Regions from separate parts of the Homo sapiens genome. Here region 1 is linked to region 2. Evidence: fine-mapped expression QTL. A gene starts in region 2. The other region holds a variant in brackets. All regions are shown on one strand. Distances are between the middles of the regions.

Region 1 (4,407 bases), 23 kb after region 2:
AAAAGCTGAATCATCTAAAATTGTTAAACCCACTCATAACTTCTATTTAGCATTGGAATGCACTTCGATCTGACCTATGGAGATGATGGGTTTATTATTGTAGAAATTCCTGTGAACATGACTTAAAACGAACTACAGGTCTGTCCAGCATCCCTAAGTCTGCCAGTGCCTTAACTCTAGCCTACACTATGACCCAGGGTGCTGATAAAGGGCAGCACTTGCTACCATGCAAAGCACCAGCTTAGTAAAGCTGCCTCCTAATGATGAACACCTTCCTTGTAGAGTAACAGATTTCATCTGAACTAAGTGAGGTGACAATTTGTAGTATAAACAAAAGACTTAATGGAACAGAAAGCTCCAGTCTCCAAAAGGTCTTAAAAACAGGACTTGCCATGACTACTTAAATGCTGGCAACAGAATAAATTCCAACTTTAACAAAACAAAAGAACTGATACACTATTGTGAAAGCATTCCTTTTGGTAAGCACAAAATAAACTTTTTATCAAAAGTATTTCATAAATTTCTACTTTTTTACTGTATGTTTTGGTAACATAAAGCATCAGTAAATAAACATTACACCCATTTGGCACATGGATAGAAGGAATATCATGATCCTATATATCATTATCCTATTCCTACAGAAAACAATGTACATATACAGTGTGAAACAGCTGAGTTATATTTTGAGACCTAAAACAGATGCCATTTCTAATGCAGAACTAAGAAGAAAAAACTGTATATCAAAGAAAAAAAAAGGCTTTTTCCCTTGTAAAATTATTAAAGTCTTAGTGGCTAACCTCTTGAAAAATTTGTAAATGTGTGACTATGTAAAGTATTTTACCCACTATATTAACTTTGTATATATATACTTTTTCATGTGAAACACATGAAAACATAATTTCTATTAGCAGTGTTAAAAGTGATTACAGAAAAAAAATTAAGGTTTAACATAAACAATAGGCAGTAGAGAAATGTTATTTTAACCTTGGCACCAGGTTAAATCCTTCCTTGGTCAACTTCTCCTATACTCTACTAGGCATTCAATTCATTTTCAATCTTTCACAAAATTGGACCTTTTACTCATTTGAAGAGTAGACATATTTACAATAATTAGTGCAAATTATTCTATTATCATACATTAGTTATTTGCCTTTGTGGATATAAAGTGGTGATTCAGTACTTTATCAAAACATGGCATTATGAAAATACTGGGAATATATCAGTCTGAAATTTAAAAGATTACATTTTCTAAACTAAACTCTGGGAATTTTTACTTTAAGCATGAAACATAATTGTTATAGAACTTCTTTTGAAATGTCACTTGACTTTCAATAAAAACTATTTCACACAATGCAGAAAATACAATGTATCATTCCATAGCAGTATCTTTACTTGTCAATCCTAATCTAAAATGTATTGAACAAAAATCTTTTAATAAATTCCAATATCTTATTTTTAACCACTACTGCTCTGCAGCAGTAATTGAAGTCCCAACCTGAGAACTAAGAATGTGATAATAAAATGCCAAGGGCTCTATCAATCTTGAACTGAAGACACTTAAGCTTCTTTCCTACTGGCATCAAGTGCAGTACATTAGAGAAATGTGAGCAATCCCAGAAAGTACCCTGAGATCAACAGTACCACCTGCCACAATTTGAAACCTTAACTGTAAAATCTCTGTTCTAATTATTTTATAAAAGTTCTATTGCACATTTAATATTGTTAAAATATTTGCAAACTTGTAGAATTCTCTGTATAAAGGGCTTTAAACTTATTCAGCTAAATGCTTCCTCATCACCAGCAAAATGTTCCTAATGAAAGAAAAGCATATCCATGAATGTCTAAGCCTGAAGAATAAATGATTTCTTATGGACACAGCCAATTACAATGCAAGAATTAAAAGTTCACAATTTGACGGAAAAAATTCTTGAGCAAATGTAATTCCTCAGCAGTCTGCTTCAGGGAGATGAGCAGGTTTCCTTTAGATGTTAATACATAGTACATTATGTTTAAGGGGGAAAAAAGATCAATGCAAACCTAAGTCATCAAGTTCAATCTTTTTTTTAAAATGTAGCTACAACAAATAAGCAAATATAAAGCTTAATCTCCTCCTTGATATTTCAACATAGTTGTTACCTTCTGCCATTTCACCATAGAAACTGTCAAATTCCAAGGGGGAATATCTACCAAAAGTATAAGCTTATGCTTCTGATTCTCTCTTCTTTCCTCCT[T/C]CTCCCAAATCACTCTCTTCTGACTGGCTACTGCTAAGGACAACAAACTGCCCCTCACTACTGGCTTGGTTTGGTCTACTGGAAGCAGCTATCAACCGACTTTGTTCTTCCAAGTCCTAGTGGAAAAGACAAAAAAGAAACTAAGTTACTTGTCTGCAGTCAAATGGCAAATTATGCAGTTAAGATACATTCTTGAGAGCCACTTCTTCTGTCATAAATATGTATGCATACTTCTGACAACTTGATAAAAAGAAAAGCTACACCCAAACAATACAACACCAAAATGAATTTTGGCACCATCCTATAAAAGCCAGCATTCAAACTAAAATCTAATATTTTATCTTTCTTTTTTTATGACCAACAACCAAATAAAGCCCATCATCAATCATCTCTCACTATATATTATAGTAAAACCCTCGAAAGGGATCACCCCCACACTCCTTTCCCTTCCCCTCTCCAGCCCTTTTCTCCATCCCTGTCCAATTCATCTTTGCTAAATCAGGTGTCACCTTCCCTCAGCCTCGCCTATCAAGAAAGCCTCACTTCAATGTCATCTTTGCCACTTCCCTCTTCTTTGTCCAGAGAGCCAGCCCACAGCCAATGCTTATTGATCTGTTCTAAGCATCCCAGCTGTCTCCTCTTTTCTATTCCTACTGTCAATCTACAACCCATAACACGCTCTTACAATTTCATGGATCATTTAATGCATTCTTCAAGTTTTGCTCTGAAATTTGTCTTTTAAAATTATTCTGTTGGATGGACAATGATTTGACACTCCTGGCAATATTAAAAATATACATTTCATTATATATTTCATATAACATATATATTTATTTATTTCCCCCCCATAGAAGGCAAAATGGCTTTCAGCAATGGCAGTTAAGTCTACACAGCCTCTCAACTGCTTTGACAGAGACAACCTCCTCTGAAATATTAAAGTTCTGGTATATTTTTGAAACAGTCATATTACATGTCAACGTAACTATAATGTAAACATCATATCAAAAAACAGATGTGACCCTTTTCTGCTATGGTATGAATCATCTGTTTATGAAGTGGCTGAACAAGCAGAAACAGCCCTTCATTTGGAAATTCAAATCTGAAAGTCATAGTGCTGAATTAAGTCTTCACAAACAACACATAAAGATCCAGACATTAGGACTGTATACCTTTTCAATCTGTTTTTGTTTATTGAGTTCTTTCTGTTGCTTCTCTTTTACTCTCTCTATTTCTTTTTGTTTTTCTGATGCCCTACGATCCTAAAGAACAGATGAATAAAACTAATGAATTAAATATGAAATAACTTTAAATTTTAGACATTTCAGTTAATATCACATGGTAACCTTTCAATATTTTTTTGCATTTATACATAAGAAAGCACATCAACAGTTTATATTCAATGGTAAACAATTATCCAAATTCTAAATGCTATGTTGGTAATAGTATCACTGTTAACCTTGCTTAGCAAAATCATTTTATTTACTTGCTAATATGAAAGAGCTAATATACTATTTTAGTTAACATTCTTGGAAAATCAAGCATCTTGGATTCCTTTTTTTTTTTTGAGATACAGTCTCGCTCTGTTGCCCAGGCTGGAGTGCAGTGGTGTGATCTCGGCTCATTGCAACCTCCGCCTCCCGGATTCAAGTCATTCTCGTGCCTCAGACCTCCTCAGTAGCTGGGATTACAGGTGCACGACACCACACCCAACTAATTTTTGTATTTTTAGTAGAAATGGGGTTTCACCATGTTGGCCAGGTTAGTCTCGAACTCCTGACCTCAAGTCATCTGCCCGCCTCGGCCTCCCAATGTGCTGCGATTACAGGTGTGAACCACTGTGCCCAGCCACATCTTGGATTCTTACCAGTTCAGCATGCAAAGCTATCTGTTTTGCCAGTCCAACAGAATCACATATCTAAAAAGAGAAAAAGTATGAAAAATTCAGGCAGTTCTCACAACAAAGCAAAAATGTCAAGTATCCAAATAACTGATGGAACTAGTTTTATAACTAATCCTAATACATTGCTTCAAGCAAAAGCATATTTAAGAATGCTCAAGCCCCCAAACCAAGGCTTTGTATGTTTTCCTTGAAGTCTACAGGATTCCACTGCTGACTCTCACCTTCATATATACCCCACTTCTTGTTATGTCAAATTCATTACTGTCACAGTAAGGC
Region 2 (4,402 bases):
GAGTTTTCTCATGCCTGCTAAGCGGTCAGAACTTTAAAGTCTATTCCTGTCTTCCACACCTAGAATCATGCACCATACGAAATACTTGCCTTGGGCTGGGCGCAGTGGCTCACGCCTGTAATCCCAGCACTTTGGGAGGCTGAGGCGGGCAGATCACGAGGTCAGGGGTTCAAGACCAGCCTGGCCAACATAGTGAAACCCCGTCTCTACTAAAAATACAAAAATTAGCAAGGCATGGTGGCAGGCACCTGTAGTCCCACCTACTCAGGAGGCTGAGACAAGAGAATCGCTTGAACCTGGGAGGCAGAGGTTGCAGTGAGCCGAGATTGTGCCACTGTACTCCAGCCTAGGTGACAGAGTGAGACTCAGTCTCCAAAAAAAAAAAAAAAAAGAAAAGAAAAGAAATACTTGCCTTGTTTCACAACCGTAATACTATATGTACTGTAAAAAAATATATATGCTGTAAAACCTTCATATATCACAATTATGATCTTAGATTTAGTTCTGGCCATTTTATTACAAGATAAATAGTTCTTTTCGTACCAATGGCTGTTTTTCCCTTTATCAAGTGAATATATTTCTTTTTTTTTTTCAAGCTCAAAAATCTCGGATTATAAAGTCGGATGCCTATGTCTGTCCCCTCTACAAGACAAGTGAACGTAAAGGAACTCTTTCCACTACGGGACATTCTACTAACTTTGTCATTGCAATGTTGTTAAAAACAGACCAACCTACTCGGCACTGGATCAAGCGCGGGGTTGCTTTGCTTTGTCAGTTGGATGACTAAATTGGACAAATTTATAAAACATCCAAAAGTTTAAAAAAAAAAAAACCTGTCCTACTTAAAATATATACATTATAAAACCAAGTGTTTTGGTGTTATTCTTTTAAATGATCTTTGCAAACACTCATTGCATTGTTCTCCTTTCTGAGGAGAACTTTTTGAAGTTTGATTGTATGTGAAAAATAGATTTGGGGGTTAAACGGTAACATTTAACAAATATCAGGAATTATCTCCTTCACAAATGTTAAGTCATTCCTTCAGCTTCAGTATAGTTTACTTTCCACTCTCCTACCTAAAGTAATTATACATAAATATTTCAAATACATAAATTAAGAAATTATAAATATGGAAAATATTAAAAGTTACCCAACTATACCTCTTTATTTCTTACCTCTAAGACATCGGTTCCATTTCTCACTGCATCCTTGTGACTAGGAAAGGAAACTCAAAGCTGCGAAGTTGGCCTGCAAAGGCAGTAGGATGGCTTGAGGGCAGTCCGAACTTCTACACCTGCAGTGACAGTGTGCTTCTCGGCATTTGCTTCATATTTAATTTGAAATGTCAAGTGGTCCCTTTGCTTTTTTTAGTGTATATTAACAATTTAAAAATATTTCAACAAAACAGAATTTTGATCAAAATTTTATCTTGTGTAGAGTGAATTCTTCCCTTAGGATTCCAAGGACACTGAAGGCCACAGTTCTGTAACCCAAGGAAAATGTAGTCACAGCTACCTAGTGAATCTAGTACATTGGGACAGTCACTTTGGATAATTGGGTCAGAGCAAAATGTTTGGGTTCTCTTAAGTGAAAAATTGATTGTGGTTTGCAGTGGCTATGTGCATGAATTCTCTTTGCATGGCCAACCCCCTGCAAAAGCATTTTATTCCAGGAATAAAATATTTAATCCTTTAAATTTGATGAATGTAGCACTGAAGAAAAGAGATCATGTTTCCAAAAAGAGCTAAACCACATGTAAAAAACAAGGAGAATGTGCCAAACTGTCTTATGATGAAGTATTTATAGTAAAGCTATTAATGGAATGGTCACTACAGGGGAGAGGAGAGCCTAAATATAAATGAAAATTCTGAGGCTTACATGTGTTAGTCCTTAACAGTGAAAACTTCACTGCTGTCCTAGAGGATAAAACAAAAGGTAAAAAGTCTTTGAAATGTGACCAAATGTATTCTATGCTAAAACTGACATTTTTCTTTTAAAACCATTTAGATATTGCCTAGTAAGATACATTTGTTTTTACTACTGCTGTATCCATGTTGTAATTATGAGAATACATTTGTTCCTATAACATGTTTATTTTTAATGTATATTAAGTAAAATATTATTTTCAGCATCACACTGTGTGTAGGAAAGATATTATTTTGGATGAGTGCTACAATCACTGTGAAAGACTCACAGCCAAGTTGAACAGATCAGAGTGTTGTCAGTGTTAGAGTGGCACTAACCGAAGTCTTATTTGAAAGGTGGTTTTTCCTGAATAAGCTTTAAGTCAATGGCTACTCATGGAAACTTCTAATTTTTGTTGAATCTGTGGCAGTCCACAAAACTTTTTTAAGTTTATAGAAATTTTTTAGTGAATATTTTGTTTCCTAAATTTTGTATATTTTTCATTGTTAATCCTACCAATTTTCTAGATTTCTGAATTTCATTTGTAATTTTAAGCAGTTGATCTCTTCACAACTGGAAAAATACTTTTAATTCACTCTGACTTTAAAGTAAACCTGTCCACGTTTCACATGGATAATTACACCAGCGATGAAGACATAGATGAAGACTTTGACACCCAGCTCATCATTCAACAGAGTTTGCAGGATATTTATAAGCCAGGAACAGCACAACATGCACCTAAGGATGAGAGGTAATGGTTTTCTCATCGGCAATATAGTATTAAGTGTTGTATTCAACAGCTGACACTTGTCATTAGCTTAACTCTAGTGTTGTGACAAAAACAGGAGGGTCAGAATCCAAGGAGCTGTCAATTAAATATCTGTAAGATATTATGCCTAACTAGACAGGAATAATCTGGAAATAATTCAGAATTTAATTAGGCAATAAAAATATCTGAAGGAGGTTAGCAGCAAATCTGGGTGAGGTGATACAGACTGGAAATCAGAAGAAAGAAAGGAGGATATGAAGGGCTAGAGAAAAACTAATACATCTTGTCTTTGGGAATTGAAGAAATGCATAAATCCAACCGGGACACATAGAAAGTTAGTTATCTTCAACCTTAGTAGGGTAGGTGGGGATGGGGTCCAGTCTTTGATCTACTCAAATCAAAAGGAGGAATTACATAAACTTGAACAAGGCTTCTGAAAGTGTAGATTCAGAGTTTTGTTGGACAACACTGAAAAAGGACCAGTGGGACCCTGTGTGGGGTGTAAGAAGAATCGTCCTGGATATGGCACACCTGCTCACACGCTCGCTGGCCAATCAGCAACCTTGGTCTCCTGAGGCAGTAACCATCATTTTTTCAGGGGTGATAACCCAGTTTACTTGGGATGGTAATCTCTATTTGCCTGCTGGATGTAAAACTAGAAAAATGTCTTTTAACCCCAAGAGATTTCATAACTAAATAGAGACAATGAAGTACATCAAACCTATATAGTATTTTTAAAATGTAACAAACCATGGAGTGATCACTATGTGTCATGTTATTTTAAGCACTTCATAAATACTAACTTTTAAATTCTAATTCTCATTACCTCTCTATGAGGTAGGTCCTATTATTATCCCTACTTAGAGAGGAGGAAAGTGAGGCACAGAAAAGTTAAGTGGCTTACCCAAGGTCACAGAACTAGTAAGTGAAGAGCAAGGCAGTCTGATTCTAAAGTCTGTGCTCTTAGCCACACACTATTCCTATACTTTTGTGTTCAATTTAGGATTAGTTTTTAAAATAATCTTTAAATATTTAAAGTTTTGTAAAGAAATTAGCCTTATTAGATTATCTGTTATATTAACCTTATGATTAAAACCTTAAATTGCATAATTGAGTAACTGACTTTGAACTTACAATTTTAGGTTGAAAGGTATAAGAGAGTTGGGCTAAGGAGAGTATTGAAATGTTTCAGAGAAACTGAAATTGACTGTGGTTATGCATTTACTTGATTAGATTTGCAGGAAGTGTATGATACTTAGGCAGGCTTGCTGATTTAGTCAGGTACTTGAAGGAATTAGAAAACTAGAACATACTTGTGACATGTGGAGTAATGGTCCCATCCAAAGATGTCCTAATTTCTGGAACCTTACATGGCAAAGGAGAAGTAAGGCTACAGATGGAATTATGGCTGCTAATCAGCTGACTTTTAGATAGGGGGTGTACTCTGGATTACCCAGGTGGTCCCAGTGTAACACAGGATCTTTAAGTGTGAAAGAGGGGGAGCCAGGAGAGACAACTTGGGAGATGGCAGTGTTAAAAGGACTAAGCCCAACAATGCTGGCTTTGAAGATGGAGGCAGAGAGTCCACCAGCCAAGAAATGTGGGTGGCTTCTAGAAGCTAGAAAAGGCAGAGATAGAGTCTCCCCAAGAGCCTCCAGAAGGAACAGAGCCCTGCTGACATCTTGATTTCAGTCCGGTGAGGACTGTTTTGGATTTCTGAACTACTAA

What was found. PIP is the estimated chance that this variant, and not a neighbour inherited with it, causes the effect.
Region 1: its variant is fine-mapped to the expression of ASB14 in unexposed skin (GTEx, PIP above 0.99). The same link has a PIP of 0.9 or more in sigmoid colon, subcutaneous fat, sun-exposed skin and tibial nerve.

The regions. Positions count from the first base shown.
Region 1 is chr3:57,267,481-57,271,887 of GRCh38, reverse strand. It overlaps APPL1 (adaptor protein, phosphotyrosine interacting with PH domain and leucine zipper 1), which reads right to left. Exons shown (of 22, transcript NM_012096.3): 20 at 4,096-4,146; 21 at 3,401-3,490; 22 at 1-2,347. The coding sequence ends at 2,201. ASB14 (ankyrin repeat and SOCS box containing 14) reads left to right here. Exons shown (of 11, transcript NM_001142733.3): 11 at 2,270-3,546. LOC105377102 (a long non-coding RNA gene) reads right to left here and starts at 2,322. Exons shown (of 3, transcript NR_135535.1): 1 at 2,137-2,322. The variant T/C (reference allele first, on the strand shown) is at 2,232.
Region 2 is chr3:57,290,166-57,294,567 of GRCh38, reverse strand. It overlaps ASB14 (ankyrin repeat and SOCS box containing 14), which reads left to right and starts at 1,883. Exons shown (of 11, transcript NM_001142733.3): 1 at 1,883-1,935; 2 at 2,464-2,656. The coding sequence starts at 2,535. DNAH12 (dynein axonemal heavy chain 12) reads left to right here. Exons shown (of 74, transcript NM_001366028.2): 74 at 597-868. The coding sequence ends at 787. LOC124909384 (a long non-coding RNA gene) reads right to left here and starts at 1,777. Exons shown (of 2, transcript XR_007095923.1): 1 at 1,176-1,777.